Regions from separate parts of the Homo sapiens genome. Here regions 2, 3 and 4 are each linked to region 1. The links come from fine-mapping of genetic effects on gene expression. A gene starts in region 1. Each other region holds a variant in brackets. All regions are shown on one strand. Distances are between the middles of the regions.

Region 1 (5,496 bases):
TATGTAACTGTGTTTACTGTGGCTCAGGTGGCTCTGAGAAGGCAGAGGCAGCCCCTGACAAAGGGCAGTGCCAGAGGTGGGGAAGCCGCGACTTGCAGGGAGGGAGGCCCCTCTTAGACAGGGGAGTCGTGCATGCAAAGGAGAGAGTGCAGTGGGATTTGGAAAGGAAAGGAATCTGTTCTGTTGTTGACAGCCAGCCGGCCAGCCGCCTTATCTAGGACAATCTTCCCAGCCTCAGCCTCTCCCTAACCGTGCCAGCTGTGGAGGCAGCAAGGGGAGCTGACGCTAGAGGGAGGCGTCGGGAAATCAGACACCTGGTTCCTGGCTCAATCTCCAAACCCTGCTACTTTTCCCCCCTTAATCTACTTTTCAAAGAGAAGGAATTCTTCTCTTTAGATAAGGGCAGAAAGGGAGGAATCAGTCAAATTTCCTTATGTTTTCCCTGCCCTGTGGCCCACTGTCTCCCATCCTCTCGGCTGTGAGGCCAGATGGGCACCACGGAACATGGTGGATTCTGACCTGAGAGAGGTGATAAACCCGGCAGAGCCCAGGCCTAAGTAGACAGGCAGAAGTCAAAGCGGCTCAGGAAGAAAGCTCAGGTCTCCCGTAGACCTACCCCGCCTCCTCCTGCAAAGCTGTTTACTCAACGCCCGATTCCCATAGAGATGAAACTGGTAGCCAGTCCCCAGCTCCTTACCCATGGCTGCCACCTCCCTTTGTGAGAAACAGGAAGTGGGGAACTTTGTCAGCTCTGCTGCACCCTCTACACTAAATATTTATCTTGGAGTCCAGGTCAGAGCCCTAGAGAATAAGAGAAGCTTGCTGCTGGTGAGGGGGTATGGCCAGGATTCCTGGAGTCGGAAGAGCTTCAGCTTCACCATCTTGGGAGAAGAAGGAAGAAAGTGAAAGCGATGTGGTCCTTCTTAGTCCCAAGGACCCTGACAGGTGGGAAAAATGCGTGTCTAAGAAAATGGGCACCTATTTTATCCCTGAGGGAGGGAAGAGGCTACCTGGCGTGGATAAGAAGGTTTCTAAGCTTCAGGTTGGGGGGCAGTGCACTGCTGCGTCCCTCAAGAAGTGTCCCAGGGTTCCCCCACTGCTCAGCTGTCCTCCACAGCAATGCCCCTGCCATCCCCATCTCTCCGCCTTCCTGGAGAGTCAGAGGTTCTTGGAAGGAGTCTTCAAGGTCATCTTGTTCAGCTCCCCGCTCAGTGCAACAGTTGCCTTTACATAGATGCCCCACAACTGGCAGACTCAGAACCCCTGGAATCATGTAAAAATTTGTCCTGGGAAGCCTTGGACCTGCTTCCCTATGACGTGTCCCCCAGTGGTCCCACTGCTGCTGGTGCAGCTGTGTGTCCACATGGCAGCCCCGCAGGCGCTAGAGGCCAGCAGGCCTATCTGAAGCTTCTCAACCCAAACATCTCCTCCAGCTTTCACATGTGATGTTTCAAGGCAACGGGGAGAGCTTCTTTACCAGAACGAGGGAGAAGATAAGACTAAAGCAGTAATGGTGGTAGGGACTGAAAATCACTTAGTCTTTTCTCTACTCTCTTTCTTTCCAAACTTTGAGTTGAGTGGTGAGCTTGGAAAACACTCCAAAACTCCTCGTGGCCTCTGGCACCAGTCTGACACCCAGTAGGAATGCAGGAGATTACGTTAGTTTTCATAATTTAGCATTGATCACTCCCAGCTCGTAGCTAAAGTTGATCAGTAACTGTTGGTTGGTTGGCTGGTTTGGGGCTTGGGGATCCCTGAGCCAACTCAAGGGCCAGAAAGGATTCCAGAGTGTTTCCACGGTCCTTCAATGTTCCTTAAGCATTCCCACTTTCTGAAGTGCCATACAGAGGCTTGGGGCAGAGACAGGGAGAGGGGATGACCAGAATGGATGGGGAGCCGGAAGGGCCGGGGCTCTGGGGACCCAGCTCAGAGCAGCGAGAACAGCGGAAAAGCAGGCAGATCAAAACAAACACAGTGTCTGGGAACACCAAGACCCTCCTAATCCCATCCCCGCCAAAGGGACCCCACCCTTATCCTCTTTAGGGGCGCGGCACGCCCGGGGGGGCCGCTCCCTTGGGCTGATTTCCTCCCTGTGCTTGCACGTGTGTGAGCGTCCCCACGTTTGCAGTGTACGCGCGCGTGTTTGTTTGCACACGACCGGCCGCGCGCCGCCGCAGGCACACCCTCTCCCCCAGCGCGGAGGGGCGGCGGGGCCTTCCCCTGGTCCGCTCCGCCACTCTGCCTGCGGGGCGCCCTCATCTCGCTCCCGGCCTGTCCGTCTCTCCCGGCTTGCCCAGTTCACCACTCCTGCCCCCTTGTCCTGGCTCCGCCCGGTTCATCGCTCCTGCCCCTGTCCTGGCTCCGCTGCGAGGCCGCTCGCTTCCCACACTCTGGAAATGTCGCTGGAAACTCTGAGTGGCCCGTGTCGGGCCGCCCGACCCCTCCCCGACGCCAGCCCTGCGGTAGGGGCCGGGATGGCAGCTGGGAAACCAGAGAGGGCTCCCCGGGGACCCTCGGCGGCCCCTCCCGGCGCCGCCTCCCCGCCGGCCAGGCCTCCTCGGCAGGGGGCCACCAGTGTCCCCGCGCGCGCCCCGACGGACGGAGAGCACTCGCACGTCCCTCCTCTCCGGCCCAGCCCCGGCCCGCAGTCCAGATCCGAGACCCAAACTCCGCCCGCCCCGCCGCGCGACTCTCACGGTCCGGCCTCCGGCGCGCGCCCCTTCGGCCTCCCTCTTCCTGCGCCGGCGCCCGGCCCGGCCCGGCCCGTCCTGACCCGGTCACGAGGGCCGCGACGGCCCGCGCTTCTCCTTGCCCTTCCTCCTCGAGCGCCCGCGCCAGGCAGCAGCCGGGCAGGGATGCTCCTGCGCTCCCGGGCGGCCTCGGGCCCAGCCACCTGCTCGCCGGGGAAGGTAGGTCCGGGCAAGGAGGGGCGGGGAGTAGGCGAGGCCGGCGGGAGGGATCCGTGCCCAACCCCAGGGAATCGCACCTAGCCCCTCCCCGGGGTCCGCGTCCCAAACTCTGGGAAGTACCTCCCACCAGCCCTCATACCAGAAAAAGCGAAATTCAAGAAAAGCTGTCCTTGTCCACGTGGCCTTGTCGCTGAGAAATACCTGGGAAAGCTCTTAGGGCCAGGCACCCAAGGTCAGGGCAGTGTTCAGAGCAGGGAGGCCAGTGCCCACCCCAGCAGAGCCGCCTCCCCTCTCCCGCTCCAGGGGCCTCTCCCCGCTCCCGGGGCTGGCTGCCTGCCTGGAGGGGAGGTCTGAATTCTGGGAGGACCCCTCCGCTCTCTGCTACATGGGGGACCAGTCCCCAGATGCTGCCCTCTTCCTTGTAAGTCCTCCCTAAGTCTCCTGACCTGGCTGCCAAGAGAAGGACTCGGACCACCCTTCCCTGGAGGTTCCTGTGGTGGGGGGCGACACAAGGGGCAGGGTTGAGAAGGGGCAGATGGGGGCACCAAGGGTAAGCAACCTCTGACTACGGGTCGTGGGGGACCTCCTGCCCTACCCATCCTCCAAGAGAGCAGTTCTCACCGAGCACGAGGTGGGCGGGGAGGTCAGGGAAGGAAGGCGCTGTCAGCTGATGGCCCAGGCGGCAGCTGCTGAGCTGCAATTTGGCCCGAAGCAGTCAGCTGGGCAGGGAGGGGTGCTGCGAGGAGCCGACCAGCTCCAGGTCTCCTGACCTTCCACCCCACCCTGCCTCAACTCCCCCCCGCAAGGGGAGGTGGAGTGTGGGGACTGGGGTGTGTCTGCCTGTTTTGCTTTGGTGGGAGTCCTAATTGGACCCAGCTGGGGAGCTGCTCCTCCTCCAGCCTCAGCCCTCCACTCCCCCCAGTCAGGCATGGGCACAGAAGAGCTGTGTCGCAGCAACTCAAATGTCAGGAGTCCCCACAAACTCAAACCAGAGACAAGGAGCTGCCCCCAGCCTTGGCTACACCCTCGCTAGCCCTGGGCAGGAGCTGGGTCCAGGGGCTGAGTCATCCCAGCCTTATTCTACCTTCATCCCCTCTGGGCCCCCAACTCTTCCACTGCTCACATGACTGCACCTCCCACCACTGTTCAGCTGACACCCCTCTGTACCCACAACCCCCATGCAGCTCATGTGGTCCCTCCGGTGGTCCCCCCAGAAGTCATATTCGCAGCTCTGCACCCAGATTCCAACACACACATACACACAGCTCCTCCCGATGCATTTGCAGCCCTCCCTGAGAGCCCCCAAGGACCCCACAGGCACAGGCAAACCTGATTCCATCCAGTCCTGGGCAGTGGCAGAGCTTGGCTGTTTCTGGTCCAGTCCAGCAGCCAAGACGCGGAGGGATGGACGCCGTAGCACCGTGCTCTGGGTCAAAAAGCCCCCTTGGACACCCCAAACTGGGAGCCCCTTTTTGTCCTCTTGCACCCCCACTCTGGGCTCCCCTCTTGCCCCTCCATTCCCTGGGTGCCTAGGGCTCCCTTCCCCTTCCCCAGCCTTGGGATGAGGCAGAAGAAGCTGGCTGTGGGCAGGCATGGTGCTGCCAGGGAAGACCCTGCACTCACAAAACAGCCTGGAGGGGCGGGAGAAAGTGGAGCCAGGGAGCGCGTGTATGTGCGTGCACATTTGCCCACATGCAGAACACCCCAGGGCACTCAGCACCAACTCTCCATGGGCATGAGCAGGTTCAGCTCTGCCCTCACCCACCGCTTCTGTCTCCACCCACCCGGAGCCCTCTGAGTCCTCATTCTGTGAAGGAGGCCAAAGAAGGGCCCGATGCTCCCTGTGAGCTCGCAAGAGTGGGTCTTGCTGCCTGGAAATGCCCCCGACGCTCCCCTTGGCCCTATTGGGCTTAAGGCCCTGCTGACTGCTTCCTGGAGGGCAGTGGGCGGGTGGCTGAGTAATCCCTTGTGCCCGCAGGCAAGAGATGCCCACACGGCCTGGGGGAGGCAGAGGGAACTGAAACAAAGTCCTGTGTTCCCAGGCCCCCTCTCTGCCGGCTGCCCCACTTCCCCTGCGCCTTCCCTCCGGGGGAGTGGGGAAGCCAGCTGCACCCGTGCAGGGAGAGCCCCACGGGCTCCTGGCCAGCCCCTCCCCTCCTCCTCACCCAAGCTCCCCCTCCCCCACTCCCACCCGGAGCTCCTGCCCTGGGCCTAACAAGTGGTCCATTGTGCCCCTGGGAGCCGGCAGGCACGGGCAGCCTGCAGGCGGGTGCCTGGCGTGGCCTGTTTCCTGGGTCCTTGAGCTAGTACCCAGCTGGTCCTGACCCCCTCCCACAGCCGGCCCCTCCTCCCCTATCCCAGGGTCGAGCCAAGAGGGCATGGGCAGCCTAGCCTAGCAGGGCTTTCCCTTCCTTCCTCCTTCCCCACAGAGGACACGCAGAGGAGCAGCTGGCTTGCCCGGAGTCCTCCCACCTTGACCCAAGCATGCAGGGCCCACCCCGCAGCCTCCGCGCTGGGCTCAGCCTGGACGACTTCATCCCTGGCCACCTCCAGTCCCACATAGGGTCTTCCTCCCGGGGGACACGGG
Region 2 (5,496 bases), 64 kb before region 1:
AAAGCTCTAGAGAGGAAAGTGATTCAGCTAGCTTTGAGGCAGTGTTTTGTAGTGAGTCATTCTTTGAGTCCTGAATCCTTTTTTTTAGCCTCAAAATATCAATGAGATACGCATATCTTATTTGGAGTATATTATTTTCTAACTGTGGTCTTTTAGTTTAAGGAACAACAGACTGTTTGAATGATCCTTACGATGTTTGAACATGTTACCGGCTGGAATCCCAGAAAATATCTTGGCATGCCTTTGAATTTTGAGAGCCCATTTTATTGTGGGTGCTCTGGTTTAATCCCAAATACACAAAAACCAATTAAATATAAGCACTGAATTTGCAAAGGCCAAATAAACGCAAGCACAGATGGGAAAATAAAGTACCCACTTACCAAGAAGGACGATAAGAAGCCTTCTCCAACTGAAAGAAAAAAGAGAGATCCCAAGGCCTCAACCCAAAGGGAAAAATCCCTTCCCTGAGACCCCACAGCCAGGGTCTACAAGGAGGAAAAGAGTCTTCCTTAATAGGAGATCCCTCAGCCAGATCAGACGGGAAGGGGAAAGACACCATCCCATCCAAATCCCAGATAAAACAGAACTCAACCAAAATCGGGAGTTCAGTCCAAGAATGACTCACTAAGGGAAAAAGAGGCAACTTGCAGAAGCCGTTAGAGGAGGGGGTGACTTTCAGAGGTCCCCAGTGTGGCTACCTTGTACTATAGTTCCAATGGCTGCTGATCTTCTCTGAGATGAGTCAGCCTTAGACTCATACTTGACCAAGTATGTCAAAGTCAAATGAAACACAGAGATGAATCTCTGAAATTAAGATGTTTTATTTGTGAAGAAAGAATTGCAATTTAGAGCATGCATGCAGACAGAATGGTATGTCCGAAGAACAAAGAGAAGGTTAGAGGTTTTATGAAAAAGCGAAATGTTATGTGTTGCTCTTTGAGAAAGTTCATTGGCACTAGTAAGGTTCTGGAGAGCTTGCCAGTTTTGATTGGTGAGTGATGGCAGTGGGTAAAATTAGCCTTAGAATTTCAGCAGATCATTTCAGTAGCCATTAGATAAAACTGGTTTCCAGTAATAGCAGGCAGTTTCGGCAGACATGCTTGCAGAGAATTACATTTTTGGGTCAATGTTATATGTCCTGAGTGCTTCCCCCCCGCCCTCTTGACTCTGTTTTAGTTGGGTATGACAGGAATAACCCAGTTCATATGATCAACTTTCACAGTAGTTAATGATATAAATACCTTAATTTATTTCACCATTCCTCTACTGTTGGAAAAATAGGTTTATAGCAGGTCATGCTATTGCATACATTTTCCCTCTGTCTTCCTTACAAACAATATCTCTATTTTATTCAGATAGATGGGATTGGGGTTGCAGGGAGAAGCTTTGATCTCAGGGAAGGAAGGCCCTTATCCCAGCCCCAGGGAATGAATTCTGGGTGGTCTGAACTACTCAAGCCAATCAATTTCCTGTCACTAATGATTGGTCTAGGGGTAAACACTGGATTTTCTTTTAACCAGTAATATATAAAGGGAACTCTGCTGGGTTTTTGTTTGTTTGTTTGCTTTTGGAAACACTCTTTCTTGATGAAAAGACTATTGCAAGGTTGAAGCTTTTGGACCCCCATTCTACCATTTCACTTCATATGTGGATGTGTGTACTGTAGCAGCCATGCTGTGACTATGAGGAGGTGACATGACTAAGGAGGAAAAGCAGACCTGTGAATCGCTGATCACAGAGGTACAGAGGGCTTGGTTTCTTGGTGAAGATGTTGAACTAGTACACCAAACCTGGACATCTCATCTCCAGACTTGATGTGTTTTTTGTTTTGTTTTTTTTTTTTTTTGGGACGGAGTCTCACTCTGTTGCCCAGGCTGGAGTACAGTGGCACCATCTCGGCTCACTGCAGCCTCTGCCTCCCAGGTTTAAGTGATCCTCCTGCCTCACCCTCCCGAGTAGCTGGGATTACAGGCACCCACCACCACGCCTGGCTAATTTTTGTATTTTTAGTAGAGATGGGGTTTCACCATGTTGGCCAGGCTAGTCTCAAACTCCTGACCTCAGGAGATCTGCCTGCCTCAGCCACCCAAAGTGCTGGGATTACAGGCATGAGCCACCGCGCCCAGCCCAGACTTTGTGTTTTATGAGGTATTTAAATATCTTACACAACAGCAAATTGGATTTGATATCACTTGTATTTAAATGGTACAAAGTTGTCTTCCAATTATTTCCACTCTGCACATTGCTAAAGTTAACATCTTTTTGAATATATCTGTGATGGCATTTCAGATACTTAGATCAGATTCTCACACATGAAGTAACTGATCAAAGAGTAGAACATTTTTAAGACTTCTGCCGCTGATAAAACAAAATAGTAAAGTTTTATTTATCTTTGAGACTTTTGGTGTTCCCTCTTCATTTGTACCTATTACAAAATGCTGGCTGGGCGCCCTGGCTCACACCGGTAATCCTAGCACTTTGGGAGGCCAAGGAGGGTGGGTCACCTGAGGTCAGGAGTTCGAGACCAGCCTGGATGACATGGTAAAACCCTGTCTCTACTAAAAATACAACAAATTAACCAGGC[G/A]TGGTGGCGTGTGCTTGTAGTCCCAGCCACTCAGGAGGCTGAGGCAGGAGAATTGTGTGAACCCTGGTGGCAGAGGTTGCAGTGAGCCTAGATTATGCCACTGCATTCTGGCCTAGGTGACTGAGTGAGACTCTGTCTAAAGAGAAAAAAAAAATAAAAACAAAGTGCTTCCTCTTCCTCTGTGAGAGAAGAAGCTAAATTTTAGTTTCTTTAATTGATTTTGTGAGAAAAGAAAAGATTAAAGGGAACATTTTCAGCAAAGATATACTGTATTAAAAGCACAGAAGCTGCCAAAGAGAAAAATGTTATCAGATGAGCAGGTGATATAAATGTTATTAGATGACCAATTGATGAACAGGTATTGACACATAGAAATGATTCTGGAGGCAGAGTAAAAATTCTGTTCACACAGAAGTAAAAAGTAATTGAGTGGTTGAACAGATCTCTTGATAATCATGACCTTGTAATTGAATTATACAAGACAATTGTACAGTTGCATCCTGATGTATAAAATAAGGAAATAAAACTTGAAATTAGAGGCCAAGAAGCACATCACCAAATGACATTATACTATGGGTGGATTGTGCCTTTATATATCTCGTTACCTCAAAAAGGTGAGTTAGAAGGCACAAATGTATACCCAGATAAATCAAAAGATATATTGTGTTCTTGGTTGGGAAAGGTAGGTATAGAAAAGAGAAGTGCATTCTAAATTTGTATATTGATTTAATATAATTTTTCCTTGGAATATTTTGTGAAAATTGTTATCTTGGTAATGAAATTTAACCCCTCAAAAGAATAAAGCCACACAAGGTTATTTATATGTGTCTACATGTTTAAGCTTTATGATTATTTTGCAATGCCTGTTTCAAAATGTGTATATGCTTTAATGCAACAATTCCATTTTTCAGAACCTATGCTTTAGATGCACTCATAATTACGTACAATGATGTTTGAATTGTTTGTCACAATGATTGAAAGTTTCTTTTGGCATTTGATAAACAGGCTTCAGGGATACAAAATACCCTGCAATGTGTAGGAGACACCTAAACAACAAAGAATGAATGATTCTCAGATTGTCAACAGTGCCTGTGTTAGATTCTGGGGATCTAACAGGGAGATGCACAAGCAAAGTCCTTTACTGTATTTTCTAGTGAGAGGGACAGCATCATGTATTTGTTTACCATCCATGAGAACCAAATCAGAGGAAGGAGCTAAAGCGGGACAGGAGCAGCTAACTTAGATGGAGTGATCAGGGCAGGTTCTTTTGAAGAGGCAATTGTTGAACAGAATGACCTGTGGGAACAAGCTGTGCATAGATCAGGGGAACTACATTCCAGGCAGAGGCACAACCAGTGTAAAAGCTTACAGGCAGAAGCAAGTCTAGGGCAGTCCATGTATAGTAGTGAGGCTATCGAGGCTAGACAGAATAATGAGTAAGGGAGAGATGGAAGAGGTGCAGAGAGTGGGGCAGATAGATGATGTCAGGCCTAGTAAACCATGTCAGTGCATTTGGGTTTTATTCTGAATGTGCTAGGAAGTTATTGGAGGAATTTTTTTTTTTTGAGCAGGGGAGTGACGTATTCACATTTATGTTTTAAAACAATTACTTTGGCTGTTAGAAGGTCAGTTGACTTTTGGAGCCCAAAAGCAGGTGCAGGGAGACCAGTGAGGATTTAATCTAGTAATATAGGTAAGAGATGTCAGTAATTAGATTAGGCATACTGAGAAACATTTGGATTCAGGATTTCAAAGTCTTTCCTTTTTGAGGAGGTGGGAAAGTCTCAGTTGAATTGATCGAGCTCCTCAGGTCATGGCACATTTCTCATCAGTCTTTGCAAAGTCCCTCTTTTTTGTTTTATTCTTTTTGTGCTTATCTGTGATCTCTGAGTTCCTTACTCCCTCTCCCCAGTATACACATGCTTCTACTGTATTTAATATATGATTCAGAATACATCTAATGTATATATGAATGAATGATTCTCAGATTGTCAACAGTGCCTGTGTTAGATTCTAGGGATCTAACATGGAGATGCACAAGCAAAGTCCTTTACTGTATTTTCTAGTGAGAGGTACAGCATATATATATATAACAAATATATATTATATATAATAGTGTATATAATATATAATATATAATAAGTATATATTACATATAATATACAATAAGTATATATTATATATAAGTATATATTATATATAAGTATATATTATATATTATATATAAGTATATATTATATATTATATATATAATAAGTATATATTATATATAAGTATATATTTTATATTATATATATAGTAAGTATATATTATATACATACATAACAAATAAATATATATATATTCACTAATTTGAGATGGAGTCTTGCTCTGTCTCCCAGGCTGGAGTGCAGTGGCACGATCTCAGCTCACTGCAACCTCTGCCTCCCAGGTTCAAGCAATTCTCCTGCCTCAGCCTCTCCAGTAACTGGGATTAGAGGCGCATGCTACCACGCCCAGCAATTTTTTTTTGTATTTTTAGTAGAGACGAGGTTTCACCATGTTAGCCAGGGTGGTCTGGATCTCCTGACCTCGTGATCTACCCACCTTGGCCTCCCAAAGTGCTGGGATTATAGGCGTGAGCTGCCGTGCTGAGCCAATACATCTAATATATTAATTTTTTAATGTATAGAGCTTTTACAGATAAAATATTTTAATTTTACATAAATGATATGGTGCTGTCCAGTGGTCTTGAAATGTTAACATACACCATTATTACCTGGAAAGCTTGTGCAAACAGAGGTTGCAGGACCCTGACCCTGTTTCTGACTCATCAGGCGTGGGGTGGAACCTGGCAATCTGTATTCTGTCGGGTTCCCAGGTGATGCTGTTTACCACACTTTGAGATGAATGTGACCATACTTTGAGAACCA
Region 3 (4,686 bases), 30 kb after region 1:
CGCCTCTCCGCGCGGCCCGCCCTCCCCGGCGCCGGGCTCCTCTCCGCGCCCCTGTCGGCGCGGAACCCTGGCCTCGTCCGCGGCCCAGCTCCCTGGAGCCTCGCATCAGCGGGGGCGCCCCCGCGAGCTGCGCTCTCCCCGGCCGGAGCGCTCCTCCTCCAGCCCCCAGCCCGCAGGGTACTTTGCCCTCGGAGCGAAGGAGGCTCCAGAACTGGTAGAGCCGGGCCATCGGGCTGGGCACCTCCCCGCGGCGCCCGCAGCGCGGAGTCCACTGACCGGCTCAAAGGTCTGGGAATCTCGGGGCGGCCGCGAGCCGGCCTCGGGGACTGGGGTGGGGGCGGTGCTGGGAACAGAGGCTAGGCCTGGGCCCAAGGGGAAGGCAGCCGGGGATGGAGCGGACAGACCGCTGGTGCTCTTGATAGATTCTCGCAGCACTTGCGTCCCCAGGGCAGCCCCAGGATGGGTGCTGGGCAGGGTGGTGCCCAGCCTGGCACCGCGGCTTCCTGCCTGGATTGGCTCCTGGCTCCAGAGCTAGAGGCTCAGGAAATCCCACAGGGGTCTGTCTGCAAGGGCACTTCCTTGCCCAGCGGAGGGGCTGTGGATGGGAGGCCTGTCACCCCGGCTGTCTGTCGGGCAGCATCAGGAATCTGGGGGTGGGTGTGTCCAGCTTGACAGATGAACCCTGGCCTCCTTGCCCTGGCAGCCGGCCCCTGGGGGAGGTGGGGAGCCCGGTCTTGCCCGTGTGATCCACTTTGCCAAGAACGAGGTGGGCAGCTAGGAGGCCCATGTGAAGACTCGGCCTCACCCCACCAGTCCTTCACCTGGCCAGTGACTTACACAGTCTGTACTGGTGCCAGCCTGTTCCTTGACCCGTCACTCCTGCTTCCTGAGCCCTGCTCTCCCTAGGCCACTCACCAGCCCTCCCCCAGAGTGGAGAGGAAGTACCGTGTGCTGTGGGTTTTGGGGACAGGAAGCAAGCGCTAGTGGGACTGAGCCCTGATGGTGGAGGAGGGGAGACTGAGGGGGTGCTGGCATCCCCTCCACTTGCCAGCCCCTGCCCCCCATGCTCCAGCAAGCCCCCTGCCTGGCAGCCTGGGCAGCCCCCTCCTGGGAGTCGCTCCCTGGGCTGAAGACTAAGGAAGGGAGAACCCAGAAGCATGGCTTCCCAGGGTGGGGGGAAGTGAAACCGGGCTGAGGGAGGGAGTTAGCCACTTCCTCTACCCACCCCAAAGCCCCTGAGTAGCTGCTCCGGGAGCTGTGGTGCCCTCTCCTTCTCCCTTTGGCTCCTCTCCTGCTGCCTTACAGTGCCCCCAGAGCCGGCTAGGGGCATGGACTTCACCTCCTGGTCCTCTCTTCCTCAGGTATGGCGTTGACGGTGGATGTGGCCGGGCCAGCGCCCTGGGGCTTCCGTATCACAGGGGGCAGGGATTTCCACACGCCCATCATGGTGACTAAGGTAAGGATGGTGGCTCAAAGAGATGAGAAGGTCCTGCCAGAAGCGAGGTCGGCCCTGTTCACCCCACTCTGCACAGATGGCTTGCTTTTTCTGTTCTGGAGCTAGGGATCTGCTGCTGCCTGGCGTGCTGGCTGTAAGGGAGCCGTGGCCCTTTGCCACGGGGATGTGGTGGCCACTTCAGGAACAGACCTTGGGAGTGAAAGGGAGCTGGGACCAGGACAGGGCCGGCTCTTGCCTCCCCAGTTGCTATCCCCACACTTGCAGGCAGCCATTTGGGGTGATTACTAGAACAAGAGCCCCGGAGTTCTTGGCAGTCTCCTCTTGACCTGGGCCCAGGCTGGGAACATTCACAGGAGGGCTGTGCAGGCAGCCACCTGCAAGGTGCGATTTGCACGGGCAAGGCTCTCTATCCAAAAGTATTTCCAAGCACAGTTCCTGAAATTCTGCCACTGCACATTCTTTGGGAGGCCCATTAGAATGCCAGTGTGGGGTGGGGGCTGCCACCTGCGCTCCTGGAGGGGATGGCTGATCAGCTGGGTGTCATGAGCAGGCAGAGGGACATGCAGGAGGGTGCAGGCCGGCCTGGGTCAAGCCAGCCTCTGTGTTTCTTGGGTAGCAGAGTGGGAAGTCCCTTCTCCAGCTGGGCCA[C/G]GGTCTGAGCATGCCAGCTCCTCATCCCTACAGGTGGCCGAGCGGGGCAAAGCCAAGGACGCTGACCTCCGGCCTGGAGACATAATCGTGGCCATCAACGGGGAAAGCGCGGAGGGCATGCTGCATGCCGAGGCCCAGAGCAAGATCCGCCAGAGCCCCTCGCCCCTGCGGCTGCAGCTGGACCGGTAGGGCCTCCCGCTCTGCAGAGCCTGTGGCATTCCCCCTCCTCCACCACCCCACGTATTGAGCAGCCCTTGCTCCTGCCCATGGGCTAGAGCTCAGCCCTAAAGCGGCCTTCTTGGGCCCTCTCCACACCTTGGTGAGAAGGTCCTGGGCTCTGCTTCCTGCAGCAGGGTGGGCTGAGGGGTGTTCCCATGCCTGGTTGGGTAAAGGTGGGCGCCAGGCTGGGCGTGCAGTCACAGGCTGGGCAGGGCGAGCTGGCACCAGCCACCTTGAAGCCCGGGTTTGACTGGTTCCCAAGAGTGTGCAGGGCACAGGGCGTGGGCATGAAGTGGGTTGAAGAGGGGAACCTTCTGGGAAAGGTATGCCCGAGGCTGCATCCCCAGGACTCCTGCTTCCAACAGGGCATGGCCTTTGTTTAGTTCCCAGCTGGAAGTGAGGACTTGGGGGGCTCATTCCTCATAGAGGCTGTCTGTTCCTCCCCATCACTGAAGGCAGATGCCCGATCCTGGGTTACTCCTAGGGTTTTGAGCCTATAAGCCAAGGTGGGGCCAGGGTGGGGCCTGGAGGCCAAGCTATAGGGGGAACAGGTGGCTCCCTGGGGTGGGGCATTGCAGTGAGTCACAGATCGGGAATGCCAGGAGATCCCCGAGCCAGGAGAGCCCTCTGCACGGGCCTAGAACCTGAGTCAGACACCTCTTGCATCCTGGCCACCCCCACATTGTCCTGCTCTCTTCAGCCCTACCAAGCCCCTCCTTCTCCAACTGCCCTGCCCTGTGGTGTGGCAGAAGCCGGCTCCCTTCATGTCATTCAGGTCCCTGGGTGTTTGCAGGAGCGGGACCCCAAGAAGGAGGGTAGAGAGCACCTCATGGCATCTGGGAATGGGGCAGAAAGCTACAGGAGGCTGAGGGTCTGGCAGCGGAAGGGCAGGAGCCTCGGACTGTCTCTTCCTCTGGGGTTCTCTGGAGGGACCAGGGCTCGGGGGAGGTAGGCCTGGGCTGTAAGTCAGGCCTCTGGTTCTGCACCAGGCAAGCCCAGACTCCAGTCTCTTAATTTTTTTTTTTTTTTTTTTTTTGAGACAGAGTCTCGCTCTGTTGCCAGGCTGGAGTGCAGTAGCGTGATCTCGGCTCACTGCCACCTCTGCCTCCCGGGTTCAAGAGAGTCTCCTGACTCAGCCTCCTGAGTACCTGGGACTACAGGCGCGTGCCACCACGCCCAGCTAATTTTTGTATTTTTAGTAGAGATGGGGTTTCACCACGTTGGCCAGGATGGTCTCGATCTCCTGACCTCGTGATCCACTTGCCTCAGCCTCCCAAAGTGCTGGGATTACAGGTATTACACCGCGCCCGGCCCAGTCTCCTTACTTTTGCTGACGTGATGCCCACCCCCCCCCCCGCCCCCATCTCCCGCCTCCTACCCTCCCAGGTGACCTCTCTGGTATTCAGAAGCCCTGGGGCAGGAAGCAGGGCTCCAGGCTGGAGCCAGAGACTGAGCTCTCCTCACCCTGATCCCATGGCTCTCCCAGGAAGCGGAGGGTCCTGTTGCCCTACATCTCTAGAGGCAGCCTCACGGCCAGGAATGTGTGGCAAGATGGGACGAGGCAGGCTGTCCCTCAGCCCAGACTTCAGTTACCTCCCATTCAGGGCTCCAGCTGGGTTCCACTTTGGAAGAGGGTACCCAGGGAGCTGGGAGGGCGTGCCCCTCTCGCTGGTGGGGAGCTGGGCCTACTTGTCTGGAAGGAGGCAGGCGGGTCTCGCCCTTTGTTTAACTGGGGAGACCCCTGAGAAAGGGATCAGGAGTGACGCGCTCAAAGGCACCCTGGCCTCCAGTGGGCAGGGTGCACAGCTGGCCCAGTCACCGTGGGCTCTAGAACTTGAGGCAGCTCACTTTCCCTCTCTGGGTTTCAGTTTCTCCATGGGTTAAAATATAAAGGATTATTTCTATGAAATCAGTAATCAGGCCGGGCGCAGTGGCTCACACCTGTAATTTCAGCATTTTGGGAGGCCGAGTCGGGCGGATCACCTGAGGTCAGGAGTTCAAGACCAGCCTGGCCAATACGGCGAAACCCCGTCTCTACTGAAAATACAAAAATTAGCCGGGCATGCTAGTGGGCACCTGTAGTCCCAGCTACCTGGGGGGCTGAGGCAGGGAGAATTGCTTGAACCCAGGAGGTGGAGGTTGCAGTGAGCCGAGATTGCACCACTGCGCTCCAGCCTGGGTGACAGAGCGAGACTCCATCTCAAAAAACAAAAAAATCAGTAATCTTCCCCCAAATCAATCTACAAACCCGAGGCTGAGTGATATCAGTGACAAAGTCCAGGCAAAATAGAAAAAAAAAAAAAAAAAAAAAAAAAAAAAAGGGCAGGATAATGTGAGGACTCTCTAATAAAACTGAATGTTTG
Region 4 (5,496 bases), 22 kb after region 1:
GGCACCCGTGGGTCCATGGCACCAGGAAGGCCCCACAGACACTGACTTTTCCCCCCTCAGGGAGAGCACATCTGCCTGATCCGCAAGGTGAACGAGAACTGGTACGAGGGACGCATCACGGGCACGGGGCGCCAAGGCATATTCCCTGCCAGCTACGTGCAGGTGTCTCGTGAACCCCGGCTCCGGCTCTGTGACGACGGCCCCCAGCTCCCCACGTCTCCCCGCCTGACCGCTGCCGCCCGCTCAGCCCGTCACCCCAGCTCCCCCTCAGCCCTGCGCAGCCCAGCTGACCCCATCGACTTGGGGGGACAGACCTCCCCCCGTCGCACTGGCTTCTCCTTCCCCACCCAGGAGCCTAGACCCCAGACCCAGGTGAGGTAGCCTGCCTCCACCAGAGAGTCGACCTCCTCCTCACCCCTCATCCCCCACCCCCGTGACTTGTCCACACTTGGGACTCCTTCCCAGACAGCCCTGGGACATAGGAGTGGGGTGACAGGGCAGAAGCTAGTATGGCAGCCCCACCCTGGCCTGGGGGACCTCAACCTACCGAGCTCTAGCCGAGGGAGCTCTAGATGGAATCCCAAAGCCGGCCCAGGCTCCTGACCCTGGGTGTTCTTGGTTCATCCATGCTGGCGTCCAGAAACCCAGGCACTGACCTTACTTGGGCCTCAGTTTTCTGGCCCCTGTGAAATGAAATAGTCACAGCAGGTGTCCCTGTGCCCTGGGGGTTTGGAGGCTAAGATGAAGCCGTTTGTAAGGCGTGCTGGCAGGTGGACTGGGAACGCCCATTTTGGGCCTCCTCCCTCAGGCTTACATGTACCCATCGTCTTCCTCCCTCTGACATCCCTTTCTTCCTGTCAACTCCCAGAATCTTGGCACCCCTGGTCCAGCTCTGTCCCACTCTCGAGGTCCCAGCCATCCCCTGGACCTGGGGACCTCCTCTCCTAACACCTCTCAGATACACTGGACCCCGTGAGTACCATCTGAGGGCTCTTGATCAGACGTGGGGGGGGTCACTGGCAGGCAATGCCCCATATTCCACCCTCCCCCAAGTCCCCACCTGTGGATTTGGGAAACTTCTACCAGGTAGCCCTTGTCCTCGAAGAGCTTATGGTGATTTGGGGCAGGGAGGAGGCGCTGGTCTGTGATGTTCCCAATCCCTCCTGGCAGCTATGTGGCCTTGTGGCCTTGGTCTCCTCATTGGGTTTCTAGCCCTGAGGTCGGTGCATGTATAATTGAAGTGTGGAACTGGTGGAATGGACAGGAAGGCACCAGGTGCTCAGAGGAGGCGAGGGTTCAGTGCTTAGGGCCCAGAGGGCAGGAGGCAGGCCTGGGAAAGACTACGGTGAGCACAGGCTGAGTTGCTCTGAGGAGCTGGATCAGGGGCTAGTGAGAGCATGAAGGGACCCTGGGGCATTCACAGGAAGCGGCAACACTTGGGTTAGAGCCTCTGGGCCCATTCTCTGGTTGCCATGATACGCTTCTCGCAGGTACCGGGCGATGTACCAGTACAGGCCCCAGAACGAAGACGAGCTGGAGCTGCGCGAGGGGGACAGGGTGGATGTCATGCAGCAGTGTGACGATGGCTGGTTTGTGGGTATGTGGGCAGGCCGGGAGGGGGCATCTCAGGGCCCCAGGGGATGTGGGTGGGGTGCTGTTGCCTGCCAGTGCTGCTTCAGCAAAGATTCATGGCCGACCACCCCCCGACTCAGCTTCCGGCCGGGCTACTGGGGGGGCCTGGCACCCGATGCTTCCCCAAAGCCAGCCCTTCTGTTGGCTGCCTTCCTTCATGAAGAGGCCAAGGCCCAGGAGGAAACTGGCACCAGTCCAGGGTCACTGATGGAGTCAGTGGGGACCCAGGCCAGGGTTCCCAACGTCCAGAGCTCTGCCTCTTCCTCCTGCACACCCCTGCCTCGAGCAGCCCTGGGGGAGAGCTCCTGGTGGAAAGGACCAGGGCTCACACTTGACCTAGCTGGCTCCTCCAGCCTGGGAGGAAGAGGGAATGGAGAAAGGTCCCAGCCCCTCAGGGCTGGCCCAAGGGCAGCTCTGACCAAGGACAAATGCAGGAAGCCTCAGGTTGGCCTCAGCCTGAATCAAGGTGACCAACCCACCAGGCTTCACATGGCCTCTTTCCCCAGAGTGGGCGGGCCCTGTGCAGGTCTCATCTTCAAAGGATGGGCCGTCCCCAGAGAGAAGAGAGTGGCCAGAAGCCCCCTGCCCTGCCCCAAGCAGGCTTTGAAGCCTGAGGAGTTGGGGGGCTGCTTGGGCAGCCCCTTGACCTGGCAGCCCACCCTTCCTGATCTGATCCCAGTACAGCTGCCAGCCAGCTGTACTGACCCACCCAGGACCATTAAGCACTAGCCTGTGAATGGCCCCTACCTTCTAGTGGGGGAGGGAGGGAGGCGGTGCTTGGAGATGCATTCAAATTTACTGGATACACTTTTGCTTTGGAATTTTTTTACAACTACTAATAAAGTTTTGCAAACCTATGCAGACAAGAAGAAAAAGTACCACTTTTGTATTAGGAGCCACAAGCGCTTTGAGAGGAATGGGCGAGACCTGTGCCCTTTCCGGTATGGCAGCCACCGGCGGCATTCAGCTGTTGAAATGTAGCTCAAATGAAATAAATTAAAAATCCAGTTCCTCAGTTGCACAGGCACATCTCAAGTGCCCAACAGCCACAGGTGGCGAGTGGTGCCCATTTTAGTTAGTGCAGGTCAGGGAAGGCTTCCTGGAGGAAATGAGGGAGCTGGGCCTGGAAGGGCAGGGGAAGGATTTGGGGAGGCCAAGAGGAAAGGGAGGTACTCGGGGCAGAGGACGAGGGTGGGGGTGGGACGAGCACGGGCTGCCCCCAAGGAAGTCAGGGTGCCAGCCTGGAAGGGGAGGCCCAGGATCATCCATTCACCCAAGGTCAGGAGTGACGTTCATTTCAGTTTATATTCCTATTTTTCTATATATAGGAATATAATAATATTTATTACATTTCTGTATTTCTATATTTCTCCATTCCCTCTTCCTCCCAGGCTGGAGGAACCAGCTGGGGGGTGTGGGGATACACAGGTGTGAGCCCTGGTCCTTTCCACCAGGCGCTCTCCCCAAGGGCTGCTCCAGAGGCAGGGGTGTGCAGGGAAAAGGGGCAGGGCTCTGAAGGTCGGCAACCCCGGCCTGGGTCCCCAGTGACTCCATCAGTGACCCTGGGGTGGTGCCAGTTTCCTCCAGGGCGTC[C/G]TTCTCTTCATGGCACGAAGGAAAGCAGCCAACAGAAGTGCTGGCTTTGGGGAAGCATCGGGTGCCAGGCCCCCCAGATGCTTTGCCCGCTGGGGTTCCCCCCCCTCCTCCTCTTCAAGACACGAGTTTCTGTGGGGCTGAGAGGCCTGGATCGGAGTCCCAAGCTTACTCCTAAGCGTCGGGGTGCTCTCGGGCAATGCATTCAGCCTTCCCATAGGCCTTCCCACCCATCTCTAAGTGAGGGTGCCCTATTAGACCAGGGACGTTTCTCCCGATTTCAGTTCTGTGATTCCTCCTCCTGTGTCCCCACTTTGCGGAGGAGGGGGGGAGTGACTCTGCTGTGTACAGTGTGATGCACATTTGTTGATTGCTCAGATTCTTTGGTGGTTGAGTGTGGGAAGTGTAGCTTTGCCCATCTAAGCTTCTGCCGCTAGGGGGCAGGAAGGAGGAGAGCAAATCCAATTCCCTCTCTGGGCTCCCCTACAGAACTCCCCTACAGTTCTGGGCACTGCCGGCAGGGGGCAGGCCCTCACCCCTGCATCCCTGTTAAAGAAGGGAGTGGGGAAAGCTCTTCCTGCCTTTCCTCTTTCAGGTGTCTCCCGGAGGACCCAGAAATTCGGAACGTTCCCTGGAAATTACGTTGCCCCGGTGTGAGTGGTCTCCATGGCAACTTGGAGCCAGCCAGGATGGGGTGGGGAGCGGTGGCACTCGTGGGAGGGAGAGGACCCCCGCCCACATCCTCCTTCCCCAGGACCTGAGCTCCCAGCATCTGCAGACGACCCCCGCAGCCTTTCCCTCGGACCCCCCTCGAAGCCCCCTGGACTGATTCCCACCCACGACTCACAGGCATTCCTCCCACAGCCCTTTCATTTCCTCCCCACCCCACTCCCCAAATACAGAGGTCTGCTTTGAAGCGGAGACCATTTCCAGGCCTTATTGAGACCAGACCCCAAGTCCCCCACCCCCATCCTGCTCCAGCGTTTCCTCTAACAGGGACCAGCTCTCCGCTTTGCCCCCACGGGGTTCCTCTAACCAGAACCAGCTTCCTAGCCTCGTAGAGACCAAAGGCCGCCCCCGCCTGCTGGGGTTCCTCCCAGCACCCCAGCTTGCTGGCTGCCCTCTTTGCCTTCTGGCCTCCAGCTGGGTGTGGGGGGGCGGAGCAAGGCGGGGGACAGACGCAGCACCTTCTTAGCGATCTAGGCCTGGCAAGAGCTCTGGCCCCAAGGCCTCCTCTTCCCAGGGGCTGCCAAGTCCTGGCCCTGGCCCTGGCATATCACCCCGCACTGTGGGGCCAGGCACCACTAGCCTGGCTCAAATATTCCCCAGGGAGACTGCTGTGTGCTGCCCGCCTGCCTGCTGGCTCTCCCCCAGCCCCACATCCCCTCTGGAAGAGAATGTAAAATAAACCTGGACACAAGGGACCTTGTCTCTGCGGCCTTTTCCTTGGGGTAGGGGATGCCTCCTCCTGTCTAGGAGATGGGAATTCCTTCTGTGGAGGGCTGTGCTGGGAGACAGGTGGGACAGGTGTGTGTGTAAGAGGAGGAGGATGGAAAAACACCATTATTACCTCCAAAGATCTCTGCCCTTGGGTGTCAGGCAGGTTGCGGCAGCCCCCACAATTGGGCAGCTGTGTGGCAAGAAGTGCTGGGAGAATGAACAGTGCCAGGCCCTGGTAGCAGGGAGACACCAGAGATGGGGGACTGAATGTGGCCTTGTTTGCAGACTGTTTTGATTCTGGAGCTGCCACCGTGGGGTTGCTGGGCTAGATGACATTTCTAACTATTCTGCTGTTTTCCTTCTGTGTGCTCTGTTTCCACACCGAAGCCCTTGTGTGTGTGTGTGTGTGTGTGTGTGTGTGTTTATTCTCCTCTTTGGGCTCAGGCTTTTGAGCAATCCTTTGCGGGAAGCTGGGAGTGGTCAAGCACAGCCAGCCAAAACTCCTCTTGAACAAGGGTGTTTTGTTTGTTTGTTTGTTTTTTGTTGTTTTTTTTCTGTGTGAGATGGGGTCTCATTCTTTCGCCCAGGCTGGAGCGCAGTGGCCCGATCTCGGCTCACTGCAGTCTCTGCCTCCCGGCTTCAAGCAATTTTCCCACCTCAGCCTCCTGAGTAGCTGGGATTACAGGGTTGCGGCACCATGCCCAGCTAATTTTTGTATTTTTAGTAGAGATGGGGTTTCACATGTTGGCCAGGCTGGTCTCGAACTCCTGACCTCAGGTGATCCACCCACCTCGGCCTCCCAAAGTGCTGGGATAACAAGCGTGAGCCACCGCG

Alleles and levels. Alleles are on the strand shown, and positions count from the first base shown. SD is a standard deviation of normalised expression in the study named. Not every link is listed here.
For the expression in breast of the gene that starts at base 2,814 in region 1, C is the high allele of the variant in region 3 and G is the other (small effect, 0.19 SD a copy in GTEx).
As copies of G replace C in region 4, the expression in adrenal gland of the gene that starts at base 2,814 in region 1 goes down (small effect, 0.30 SD a copy in GTEx).

What was found. PIP is the estimated chance that this variant, and not a neighbour inherited with it, causes the effect. A credible set is the group of variants that fine-mapping cannot tell apart.
Region 2: its variant is the best candidate, but not a certain one, in a credible set for the expression of SORBS3 in whole blood (TOPMed, PIP 0.88).
Region 3: its variant is the best candidate, but not a certain one, in a credible set for the expression of SORBS3 in breast (GTEx, PIP 0.80).
Region 4: its variant is the best candidate, but not a certain one, in a credible set for the expression of SORBS3 in adrenal gland (GTEx, PIP 0.80).

What each region holds. Positions count from the first base shown.
Region 1 is chr8:22,549,114-22,554,609 of GRCh38, forward strand. SORBS3 (sorbin and SH3 domain containing 3) reads left to right here and starts at 2,814. Exons shown (of 21, transcript NM_005775.5): 1 at 2,814-2,909; 2 at 5,339-5,495. The coding sequence starts at 5,394. It overlaps LOC124901905 (a long non-coding RNA gene), which reads right to left and starts at 5,012. Exons shown (of 2, transcript XR_007060851.1): 1 at 3,049-5,012. RefSeq lists enhancers at 1-453, 1,779-2,743, 2,967-3,844, 3,652-3,701, 3,845-4,720 and 1 more and silencers at 2,132-2,261, 2,572-2,751, 2,902-2,981.
Region 2 is chr8:22,484,902-22,490,397 of GRCh38, forward strand. All of the region lies in intron 3 of PPP3CC (protein phosphatase 3 catalytic subunit gamma), which reads left to right. All of the region lies in intron 1 of LOC124901905 (a long non-coding RNA gene), which reads right to left. Among named protein-coding and RNA genes, the nearest start is that of PPP3CC, 47 kb to the left of the region's middle. The variant G/A (reference allele first, on the strand shown) is at 2,585.
Region 3 is chr8:22,579,242-22,583,927 of GRCh38, forward strand. It overlaps PDLIM2 (PDZ and LIM domain 2), which reads left to right and starts at 1,234. Exons shown (of 9, transcript NM_001368120.1): 1 at 1,234-1,456; 2 at 2,138-2,289. The coding sequence starts at 1,364. RefSeq lists silencers at 21-90, 191-280, 291-450, 1,181-1,270, 2,835-3,129 and an enhancer at 2,468-3,160. The variant C/G (reference allele first, on the strand shown) is at 2,105.
Region 4 is chr8:22,570,850-22,576,345 of GRCh38, forward strand. SORBS3 (sorbin and SH3 domain containing 3) reads left to right here. Exons shown (of 21, transcript NM_005775.5): 18 at 61-372; 19 at 869-972; 20 at 1,491-1,597; 21 at 3,818-4,939. The coding sequence ends at 3,879. Among named protein-coding and RNA genes, the nearest start is that of PDLIM2, 6.9 kb to the right of the region's middle. RefSeq lists enhancers at 1,031-1,722, 1,723-2,413, 3,479-4,197 and a silencer at 3,587-3,736. The variant C/G (reference allele first, on the strand shown) is at 3,226.